3 linked regions of the Homo sapiens genome follow. The protein of the gene in region 1 purifies or fractionates together with the protein of each later gene. This does not show direct contact. Each region holds a gene or a part of one and is shown on either strand. Other genes may lie near its edges. The genes, in order: POLQ, RBM25 and TCERG1.

Region 1 (3,751 bases):
GGGACACTCCGTCTCAAAACAAACAAACAAACAAAAAATGGGTTAAGCAAGTTGCCCAAGATCTCACAGCTACTAAGTTTCAAACCTAGACTGACTGACTCCAGAGTTGCACTGTTAACCCTTAAGTTACACTGCATCTGAGAAAGTTCTTTCTTGGCTGCAATCTAGGGGTCTCTCTCTCTTTTTTTTTTTTTTCTTTTTTTGAGACGGAGTCTTTCTTTGTCGCACAGGTTGGAGTGCAGTGGTGCGATCTCGGCTCACTACAACCACCGCCTCCCAGGTTCAAGCAATTCTCCCGCCTCAGCCTCCAGAGTAGCTGGGATTACAGGCACCCGCCATCATACCCGGCTAATTTTTTGTATTTTTGTAGAGACGGGGTTTCACCATGTTGGCCAGGCTGGTCTAGAGCTCCTGACCTCAGGTGATGCACTCATCTCGGCCTCCCAAAGTGCTGGGATTACAGGCGTGAGCCACCACGGCCGGCGAGATCTCTTTTATTTCTTTAATAGTACTCTTCATTTCTGCCCAAGCATATGGCACACTTCATTAACTGACTTGTTTAATGTCTGCCTTATTCTCTAGACTCTTTCTCTTTGAGAGCAGGAACCATTTTATGCCATTTCACTGCCATTTACCCAGTGGCTAGCTTACAGTAGATACTCAGTAAATAGTTGTTGATTGCGTAAAAGGCCAAGAGAAAAATGTTTCATTCACGGAGTAATGTCGCCATCTCGTGGAACTTTAGAATATTGTCATTTAAATCAAAAAAATGTTTTCACGGAAGGAATTGATGGTTCGAATGCTATTTTCCAGATTGTATTCGAGTGTTTTTTTTTTTTTTAATTGGACTGGACCTTTTGAGATTTTTAGTGCTCTAGAACTGCACAGCCTCTTCAGGTCAGGCTTAGGGCCTACTAGTTTTGCTTGGTGAAATGAATTATGCAACTAGGTAATGAATGGTCACCGTTTTACGTTCAGAACTCGTTCGCTTCTACCTTTACAAAAGGGACAACACAGATGCATTACTAAGCTCTTGGCTCATAACGATCCCTGGGGTATATTCAGAGCCCCTTCCTCGCGGCGTTCATATAGTGTCTCAGGGGTCTGTCAGCCAGCAATCCCCAATTCCTCATTACATATTCCTCACAATGCATGCTGGCTAAAATGGAAATTGTGTTCAGAAATAGCCCTGCCCTACCATCATATACTAGGAGAAAGGAGGAAATTATGCTCTATTAGAAACCCTAGGCTATCTTGCATAATGCTTCTCAATCTGAAATAATTTTTTACAGAATACCAATACGTTAAGAAGAGCTACTTCCCTGATCTACCTATTATGGGCAGCCCATTTTATGAAGTTAGCATGGCCTTCCTATTCAAACCAGAAATGGACAAAAGGAGAAGGAAGGCTTTTAGGTCAGTATGGTTATAACTGTAGATTCTGTATTCTTCCTCTTTAATCTATCTCTCATATTAACCAACCAGGAGGTTGGAGGCCGGAAGTCTTAGACGCCAGCGAGAGCCGCTCCTTCCCCACGAGTCTATGGCTTTCGGGTTACTTAAGCCACGGAGAACTCTATGGTTCCGGGGCGGGCCGGGAGGTTTGAGTTTGAAGACTGGCGGGAAGATGTCCGCAGCTGTTGCCAGGCCAGGGTTCTCCCGAGAGGGAGGACGCTGGGACTGTGGCTTGCCCTGATCGGCCGAGAAGAGTTTGCCATGAATCTTCTGCGTCGGAGTGGGAAACGGCGGCGTTCAGAATCAGGCTCAGATTCGTTCTCGGGAAGCGGCGGTGACAGCAGTGCCAGCCCCCAGTTCCTCTCCGGGTCCGTGCTGAGCCCGCCGCCCGGCCTTGGTCGCTGCCTGAAGGCCGCAGCTGCAGGTGCTCCAGGAACCCGGGAGGCCGCGGGCAACGGGGGCAGCTCCGCCGGGCCATGGGTCGGGAGGTGTCCTCACCCCACGGGACTTGCTTCGTTGCATACCCCATTGGGCTTCTACTCCCCTTCTCTGTGACTGGGGCCTGGTGTGGCAGGTCACTTTCTGTTCAGACATACGCGTGTTTTCAGTGATCGCCTGGTATTAATGTTCACGTGGCTTCTGGATCTTTCGACCTTTAGAGAAACAACTTCCTAGTTAGCTTCATCCCATCATCTGTTGGGCGGCTCGTTCCTGGTAGTACCCAGTACTCCTTACAGACCCTTAAGACAGGATTGTTGGGCCTGGAGTACGGCACAGGCTGTTCGGCGTCCAGGGGAAGGCTGGAAGGGATTCGTAATGAGATTGGTTGGGTGTCCCGTGGATGTCGACCCAGTTTTTTAAAATCGTTAGTTGTGCAGTCGTCATGGAACTAAAACTTACTATAAATAGAAACTCACCTAACTTAGCTTTGTAATGCTTGCATATTGCCCTCCTCCCCCAACTACACCCGTAATTCCAACACTCTTTATCTACTGTGTATTGCACGCTTTTTTGTTCGTTTGAGGCTTTTAAGGAATTTTTATTATATGCAGTAAATAACAATTTATTACTTTTCTATACATGGTCAATTTCTCATAAGATTCTTGAAGTCAGGATGTGCTTTAAAGAGCTTCATTTCAACACATAGGAATTCCAACACACGGTGAAGGGCTAACTGTAAAACTCATATATTAGAAGTAAATTAAATTTTAATTTTTTCTTTTTCCTAAAAGGAGAATGCAAGCCTACAGTTCCTGACTACGAAAGAGACAAGCTACTATTGGCAAACTGGGGACTTCCTAAAGCAGTTCTGGAAAAATACCACAGTTTTGGTGTAAAAAAGATGTTTGAATGGCAGGCAGAGTGCCTTTTGCTTGGACAAGTCCTGGAAGGAAAGAATTTAGTTTATTCAGGTATCCAAATTTATGTAAACTAATTACTATTTTTAAGATATGAATGTAAAGAATACTCTATTGAGGTAGTTGTGGTTCGTTTAAAAGGTGAATGAGGCAGTGCTTTATAACTAGAGAAAATCGTACAATATGTGTGAAAAGTGGAGTTTTATTTATATTTAAATTACAAAAGTTTTATTGTTTGACTGGGGTGGAGGGAAGCAAGAAAAATGACAATTTAAAGAGTGGGCAATTCTGCCTGCCATTATTCTCAACAAACATATATCCCAGTGAGTGTGCAATGGGAGATGTAAATCTGCCCTTCCCCTGTTTGATCCTGGTTGCTTTTCAGGGTATGAGCATTATCATTACATGTTTGTTAATTTACCTTTTTTTTTTCTTGAGATAGAGTTTGTCTCCAGGCTGGAGTGCAGTGGCGCTATGTGGGCTTACTGCAACTTCCACCTCCCAGGTTCAAGTGATTCTCCTGCCTCAGCCTCCCAAGTAGCTGGAATTACAGGTGTGCGCCACCAGGCCCAGCTACTTTTTTGTATTTTTAGTAGAGATGGGATTTCACTGTGTTGGCCAGACTGGTCTTGAGCTTCTGACAAGTGATCTGCCTACCTTAGCCTCCCAAAGTGCTGGGATTATAGGTGTGAGTCACCGTGCCCAGCTATAGATTGACCTGTTTGTACAGGGTTGTATATACAAACAACAAGTAATATACTTTATATAAAATTTTTATGGGTTTTCTTTTTTTTTTTTGAGATGGAGTCTTGCTCTGTCGCCCAGACTGGAGTGCAATGGAGTTGTCTCGGCTCACGGCACCCTCTGCCTCCCGGGTTCAAGTGATTCACCTGCCTCAGCCTCCTGAGTACCTAGGATTACAGATGCCCGCTGCCATG
Region 2 (3,651 bases), on another chromosome or scaffold:
TCACCCTGTTCCACCCCAGTTTCAGGCAAGCCCTCATTTTTCTGTATAGATAGTAGTAGATAGCGCTGCTTTTTTGTTTTATTTGGTTTTTGAGATGGGGTCTCTTTCACCCAGGTGGAGGGCAGTGCTGCGATCTTGGCTCACTGCAACTTCCGCATTTCAGGCTTAAGCAATCCTCCCACCCCAGCCTCCCAAGTAGCTGGGACCACAGGTGCACGCCACCATGCCTGGCTATTTTTTTGTATTTTTGGTAGAGATGGGGTTTCACCATGTTGCCCAGGCGGGTCTGGAACTCAGGCTCAAAGGATCCACCTGCCTCGTCCTCCCAAAGTGCTGGGATTACAGGTATGAGCCACTGTGCCCAGCCTTGTTTTTGTTTTTAAAAAGATGAATTCTTCCTGTGTTGCTCAGGCTGGAGTGCAGTGGCTATTCACAGGCGTAATCCCACTATTGATCAGTTTGGGAGTTTTGCCCTTCTCTGTTGGCAACCTGGTGGTTCTCTCTCATCCCAGGAGGTCACCATATTAATGCTGAATGGACTTAGCATGAACACCTGATCAGTAGCGTGCTGCAGCCCAGAACTCCAGGGCTCAAGTGATCCTCCTGCGTAGCTGTGACTATAGGCAGGCACAGGAGTGTTGCTCTTTAATCATTGAAAATGGTAAAACAACAAAAGTGGCAATGTCAGAAAAAGATCAACTCTTTTTTGGAGATTTCCAAACAATTGAGTATTTTCATACTTCTGAAAAGCTTTGCTGTAAAAGTAGTTTTTCTGTTAAGCATTTCCCATTCTTCTTTGGGCATAAAACACTTTTTTTTTTCTAGGAATAATTCCTGCAGACCTGACACATAATTGGAAGTAGATATTGAATGAATGAGTGAGTTGTATGTGAATATTTGCTCAGAGGAATCTCAGTTCATTATCATTTCAGAAATTTGGCACGTAGTGTACTGATGGAGCTAGTCTAAAATAATCTATCCTGGGAGAAATAATTTTGTTTCTATCTGGATAAGTCTACAATAGAGGAATGCTTATTAGCAGTGTTTTGCTGTATTTTGCATACTTGCAGTATTCTTAAGAGTGCAGAAAAAAATAGTTTGAAAGATTCAAAGAGAAAAAAGTGAAAAAAGAAAAGCTGAGTGCATGCATATGTTGAGTACTAGAGATATGTCTTCAGGGTTTCTTTTTGGACCAGATTTCTTGAGATAAAATTTGCATACAATAAAATGCATCTGTTTTAATTTCAATGAGTTTAGACAAATGCATATACTTGTGTGACCACCGCTACACTAGAGGTAGGGAACCCTTCTATCATAGGTTTCTGTTATTTTATTTAATTTTTGGGGGGCCTCACTCTGTCGCCCAGGCTTGAGTGCAGTGGTGTGAGCTCGGCTCATTGCAACCTCCACCTCCCGGGCTCAAGCGATTCTCCCATCTCAGCCTCCTGAGTATCTGGGACCACAGGTGCATGCTACCACACCTGGCTAATTTTTTGTATTTTTGGTAGAGATGGGGTTTCACCATGTCGCCCAGGCTGGTCTTGAACTCCTGAGCTCAAGTGATCTGCATGCCTTGGCCTCCCAAAACGCCGGGATTACAGGTATGAGCCACTGCACCTGGCCCAGGTTCCTGTTTTTATTATCGTGGGCTATAGAGTTTCTTTTTTTTGAGATGGAGTCTGGCTCTGTCGCCCAGGCTGGAGTGCAGTGGCACAATCTCTGCTCACTGCAAGCTCCGCCTCCCGGGTTCACGCCATTCTCCTGCCTCAGCCTCCCGAGTAGCTGGGACTACAGGCGCCTGCCACTATGCCCGGCTAAATTTTTGTATTTTTAGTAGAGACGAGATTTCACTGTGTTAGCCAGGATGGTCTCGATCTCCTGACTTCGTGATCCACCCACCTCGGCCTCCCAAAGTGCTGGGATTACAGGCTTGAGCCACCGCGCCCGGCCCGGAGTTTCATACTTAGCAGGAAAAGGTGCTTTGAACCTTCTAAAATGTGAGGTACTTTCAATATTTTAAAAAATGCTATGGAAATGATTTCAGTGCCATAAGATAACTCTGCATTTCTCTCTTTTAAATCCCACATATTATACAATCCCTCAGCAAATCCTATTGGCTGCCTTCAAAATATATCCAGGATCCAACAACTTGATAGCACTTTCACCACTACCACCTGTTCCAGGCCACCATCTCTCCAGGCTACCATCTCTTATATGGATTATTGTACCAGTCTCTTGCTTGTATCCTGTTCCCTTCCAGGCTTAACACAGTGGCCAGTGATACTGTTAAAATGTGACAAGTCAGAAACTCTTCAAATGATTTTCACCTCATTCAGAGTTAAAACTAAAATGTTTATTTACATTGTGTTACATAGCCCTACACTCTACTCATAATACTCAGTATTTATTTCTGATTTTCTTCATTTATTCTGCTCCAGTCATACTGTTGGCCTTGCTATTCCTCCCTCAAATACACCATTCCTGCTTCAGCCTCTTTGTATTTGTCTTTTCCTTTGCTTGGAAGTCTCTTTCCCCCAGATATGAATAGGGCTTCCTGCCTCTGCCTCTTTTAAATCTTTGTTCTAATCTTCACCTTCTTGGTGAGGCCTAATCGCTGTATTTAAAATAAACTACTCCATAGCTCTCTTCCCTAATTTATTTTTCTACAAAGTACATACCATCTTTCAATGTATTATAATTTATTTTGTTTATCATCTATAGGTAACAGATAAGCTTTGCTTATGATTATGAAAGTTAATTCTCAATCAGTTTCACATGGCAAAACACATAAACCTGTGTTGAAATAAGTAGTTGGTAATCTTTTAGGCTGCTTAAAGTGGACATTAGTATTTATCAAAGATGAGAAATGTTTTCTGATTTTCCATGAGAGACCAATCTTTTTTATTTTTGTTTTGAAATGGAGTCTCGCTCTGTCACCCAGGTTGGAGTGCAGTGGCGCGGTCCCAGCTCACTGCAACCTCTGCCTCCCAGGTTTAAGCAATTCTCCTGCCTCAGTCTCCCGAGTAGCTGGGACTACGGGCGCCTACCACCATTCCTGGCTAATTTTTGTATTTTTAATAGAGACGGGCTTTCACCATGTTGGCCAGTCTGGCCTCGAACTCCTGACCTTGTGATCCGCCCGCCTCAGCCTCCCAAAGTGCTGGGATTACAGATGTGAGCCACCGCGCCCAGGAGAGGCCAGTTATCTTAAAGGAATATCCATAAAAATTAGCTGTTAACTGGTATTTTTGCCTTCACCTTTGAAGTCCAGCCTATCAACAAGCAAGTTTTGGCAGCTCCAAATAAAGGGGAATATGTTATGGAAAAATTTGAAGTGAATGGAATGGGTATATTGGCATAAACGAAAATTAAATATATCTGGTTAACTCTGCAGAATGAATTACACATTTAAAAACCATAAAATATAACTTAAATACCAAGAATATAGAGTTTTACTTTTTTTTTTTTTTTAGACGGAGTCTTACTCTGTCGTTCAGGTTGGAGTGCAGTGGCGCGACCTCGGCTCACTGCAACATCTGCCTCCCAGGTTCAAGCAATTCTCCTGCCTCACCTTCCAGAGTAGCTGGGATTACAGGTGCGCACCACCACACCTGGCTAATTTTGTTTGTTTGTTTGTTTGTTTTCTTTTGA
Region 3 (3,651 bases), on another chromosome or scaffold:
ACATTGCTTTTATTAATCCCCTTCTCCCATTACTACCACAGGTCTCCCATAAAAACTGGTAGTCTCCTGCCTTGCCACAGAGGTTTGGGAAGCACTAAACCTATAAAAAGGTAACAACCCTTAACAGACTAGCTAGTATGACTGTTATACTTTCATATCAAAATTCACCTTCACTACAAAAGCAAACAGATTTGTAAAACACTATTCATATTTTCCTGTTCAGTACATTCCCCCGCTACAAAATGTCTAAAAACCATTAAGAGGATCTTTAAAGGCTATCCCCATATTATATGTACCTTACTTGACTGCTTCAGTTGCTTTTTATCAATAAAATAAATTCAAATTTGAAGCCAATGTGAATTAATTTCTCTCTTATACGTATTTCTTACACACTAATAATTCCCAAGTCCCTGAAGTAATCACAAAAAAACCCCACATTTTTTCTTTATTCTTATCAATTATCCTGGTAGTAAAATAATACAAATTATAATCACACTGTAGGGACAGCTGTGTATCTTGAGACAAGTGCCATAACAAATAATCAAATAAAAAAATCATTATTTAAGTACTTTCGGGCTTAGTCTCAACCTGCAGAGTAAGGAGCAACATCCATATATTGATACAAAAAAAAAAAGAAAAAAGAAAAAAAGAAAGAAACCCCCCAAAAAGAAAGCAATATTGTCACATTAATAACAATCTTTTAAGCAAATTAATAGCTGTGTCCCTCTCTTAATCTCTGAAATCTGCTATTAATCGACTCTCACCTTTTCAGAAAAGATCTACTCTTTGGGCCTCTGTGAGTTTACACCTGAAAATTCTCCTGCCTTTCTGACTGCTCCCTTCTATGGCAACTCCTCAATTCACCTACTCGCATCCCAGTCTAGAAACTATTCTAAAAGAGATTACTGAGAAGCTCCTAATAAACCTCCCTTATTTCATCACCACCCAAAAAACCAACACCAAAAAAAATCCTCCAAAATACTGCATTTATACAGGCCCCCAGTGCCTGTCTCACCTATTTGCCTAGTTCTTAAGACCCTTCAAAAAAAACACCCTCTCACCTCAGAAGTTTCCTAAAAACCCATAAACTACATTTATCATTTTCCTGACCTTTATTCATGTTGCTTCTCCTACCTGAAAATCCTTTCCTTACCTGTGAACCTGCTTAAACCCTACTCCGTTTCCTTCATGATAAATACCCATGTAGTCCACCCACTCATTTATCCACTTCTCAAATTCTTACATCTTTCTCACTGTATAGTTTTGCACACCAATATCTAATTGTTTAACACGTGTTATTCTTGCCTCCTCGATTAGGAATACTGGAAACTGTAAGGTAGGGACCAAGACTTACACTTATTTTGCAAACCCACAATGCCCGGCATTACTGTTGGCCAAGTGGAACAGCTAACTTTGCACTTTCTCAATTTAGCTTCATAAACTGCAACTGGGCAAATAATTTCTCCTGTTAATATAAATTCCTGTTTTCCTCTAACCCAAAAGTTTTAGTGTCAAAAATGTATTTTAAATAATTCTGGTATTAAAGGATAATACCAGAAACACTGGGATCAATATGAAATGTAGTCCCCTACTTGTTCATGTCTCTAGCCCCTATATAAAAACACATGCTGAGTGGTACTCACTTGATACTGTCTGCGCAACTGAAGTAGCAGTTGTTGTGGTAGAAGTGGTAGAGGAAGGGGTGGATGATGATGTTGAAGTGGATACTGCAGGTGCTGGGCTACTGGTCGTAGGGGTGGAAGCTCCAACTGCTTGTGCTTGCACTTGTGCCTGGACCTGGGCCTGGACCTGAGCCTGGGCCTGGGCCTGAGCTTGTGCCTGAGCCTGAGCCTGGGCCTGGGCTTGGGCTTGGGCCTGGGCCTGGGCCTGGGCCTGGGCCTGGGCCTGAGCCTGAGCCTGGGCCTGAGCTTGTGCCTGGGCCTGAGCCTGCGCCTGGGCCTGAGCCTGCGCCTGGGCCTGAGCCTGAACCTGTGCCTGGGCTGCAAGCATAGGTGTCAGTTCTGATTGCTGAATAACCTTAACTCCATCTGGCTTGGTCCATGCAGATTCACGTGTCCGAGCATTATAATAATAAACCTGCAGCGGAAGCAAAAATCAATGGTATCATAAAATCTGTCAGTTATTATTAAAAACAAGAATGGAACCATATTTTATCTTTAAAGCTATTTAAAAATAACGTAGGGCCAGGCGTGGTGGCTCATTCCTGTAATCCCAGCACTTTGGGAGGCAGAGGCAGGTGGATCACTTAAAGTCAGGAGTTCAAGACCAACCAGCCTGGCCAAAATGGTGAAACCCCATCTCTACTAAAAATATAAAAAAATTAGCCAGGTGTGGTGGCCGGCATCTGTAATCCCAGCTACTCGGGAGGCTGAGGCAAAACAATCACTTGAACCCAGGAAGTGGAGGCTGCAGTGCGCCGAGATCATACCACTGCACTCCAGCCTGGGTGACAGAGGGAGACTCCATCTCAAAAATAAAAAATAGCTGGGCGCGGTGGCTCACACCTGTAATCCCAGCACTTTGGGAGGCTGAAGTGAGCAGATCACCTGAGGTCAGGAGTTTGAGACCAACCTGGCCAACATGGTAAAACCCTGTCTCTACTAAAAATACAAAAATTTAGCTAGACGTGATGGCAGGCGCCTGTAATCCCAGCTACTTGGGAGGCTGAGGAAGGAGAATCACTTGAACCCGGGAGGCGGAGGTTGCAGTGAACCAAAGATCGCACCACTGCACTCCAGGCTGGGTGACAGCACGAGACTCCATCTCAAAAATAAAAAAATAAAAAATAAAATAAAATAAAATAACTTAGGGCCAGGCACAGTGGCTCACGCCTGTAATCCCAGCACTATGGGAGGCCAAGGCGGGTGGGATTACCTGAGGTCAAGAGTTCGAGACCAGCCTGGCCAACATGGTGAAACCCTGTCTCTATTAAAAATACAAAAATTAGCCGAGCATGATGGCAGGTGCCTGTAACTCCAGCTACTCAGGAGGCTGAGGCAGGAGAATTGCTTGAATCCAGGAGGCAGAGGTTGCAGTGAACCAACATTGCACTACTGCTCTCTAGCCTGGGCGACAGGGTGAAACTTCCATCTCAAAAAACAAAAACAAAACAACAAAAATAGGTAATTCCACCCCACAGCCCAATTTTCTATAATGAGCACAAAGGAAAACCCATGTTATGTTTTATGCAGAAATTCAACATAACAGACCTGAGACAGCTATCTGTAGAAAGCCCTGCTGACCCTTATCTGGAGTCCAAGAACTTGGATTTCAGGAGGGTTGACATTCCCTTACTGATAAGAATGGCTCGATGTGCCTAAACCAGCTACGCTGAACACCTGCTTTCCTTCTAGGAGCCTGGAATTTGGTATGTGCTAGGCAGATGGTACCAATGTGACCAGAAGCTTCCAGAATCACAGGTAAATGTGTGTTAGCACTCCAGGCAACCTTATATCTGCTGCACAAAAACTAAATCCAGTCAGCTTCTCCTGAAGTCTTACCCCATTCCCTGCTCACCCAGGGCTCATTCTTAAATGACAGTATCACTGACCTCAATCTGCCAGAACTCTTTAAGTTTTACTCCTCTGTCAACAAATGACAACTTAAATATATTTTATTATTTACCTTCCC

Evidence for each region.
Region 2: the proteins of POLQ (region 1) and RBM25 purify together in Homo sapiens (affinity purification with mass spectrometry; one large-scale study listed by BioGRID and IntAct). This does not show direct contact.
Region 3: the proteins of POLQ (region 1) and TCERG1 purify together in Homo sapiens (affinity purification with mass spectrometry; one large-scale study listed by BioGRID and IntAct). This does not show direct contact.

The regions. Positions count from the first base shown.
Region 1 is NC_000003.12:121,543,843-121,547,593, reverse strand, and holds the start of POLQ (DNA polymerase theta), read left to right. Parts: upstream 1-1,605; 5' UTR 1,606-1,716; coding exon 1,717-1,879; intron 1,880-2,687; coding exon 2,688-2,867; intron 2,868-3,751. UniProt on the Homo sapiens protein: Low-fidelity DNA polymerase with a helicase activity that promotes microhomology-mediated end-joining (MMEJ), an alternative non-homologous end-joining (NHEJ) machinery required to repair double-strand breaks in DNA during mitosis.
Region 2 is NC_000014.9:73,061,499-73,065,149, forward strand, and holds part of RBM25 (RNA-binding protein 25), read left to right. Parts: intron 1-3,473; exon of another isoform or gene 3,474-3,595; intron 3,596-3,651. UniProt on the Homo sapiens protein: RNA-binding protein that acts as a regulator of alternative pre-mRNA splicing. Involved in apoptotic cell death through the regulation of the apoptotic factor BCL2L1 isoform expression.
Region 3 is NC_000005.10:146,457,330-146,460,980, reverse strand, and holds part of TCERG1 (transcription elongation regulator 1), read right to left. Parts: coding exon 3,646-3,651; intron 2,098-3,645; coding exon 1,644-2,097; intron 1-1,643. UniProt on the Homo sapiens protein: Transcription factor that binds RNA polymerase II and inhibits the elongation of transcripts from target promoters. Regulates transcription elongation in a TATA box-dependent manner.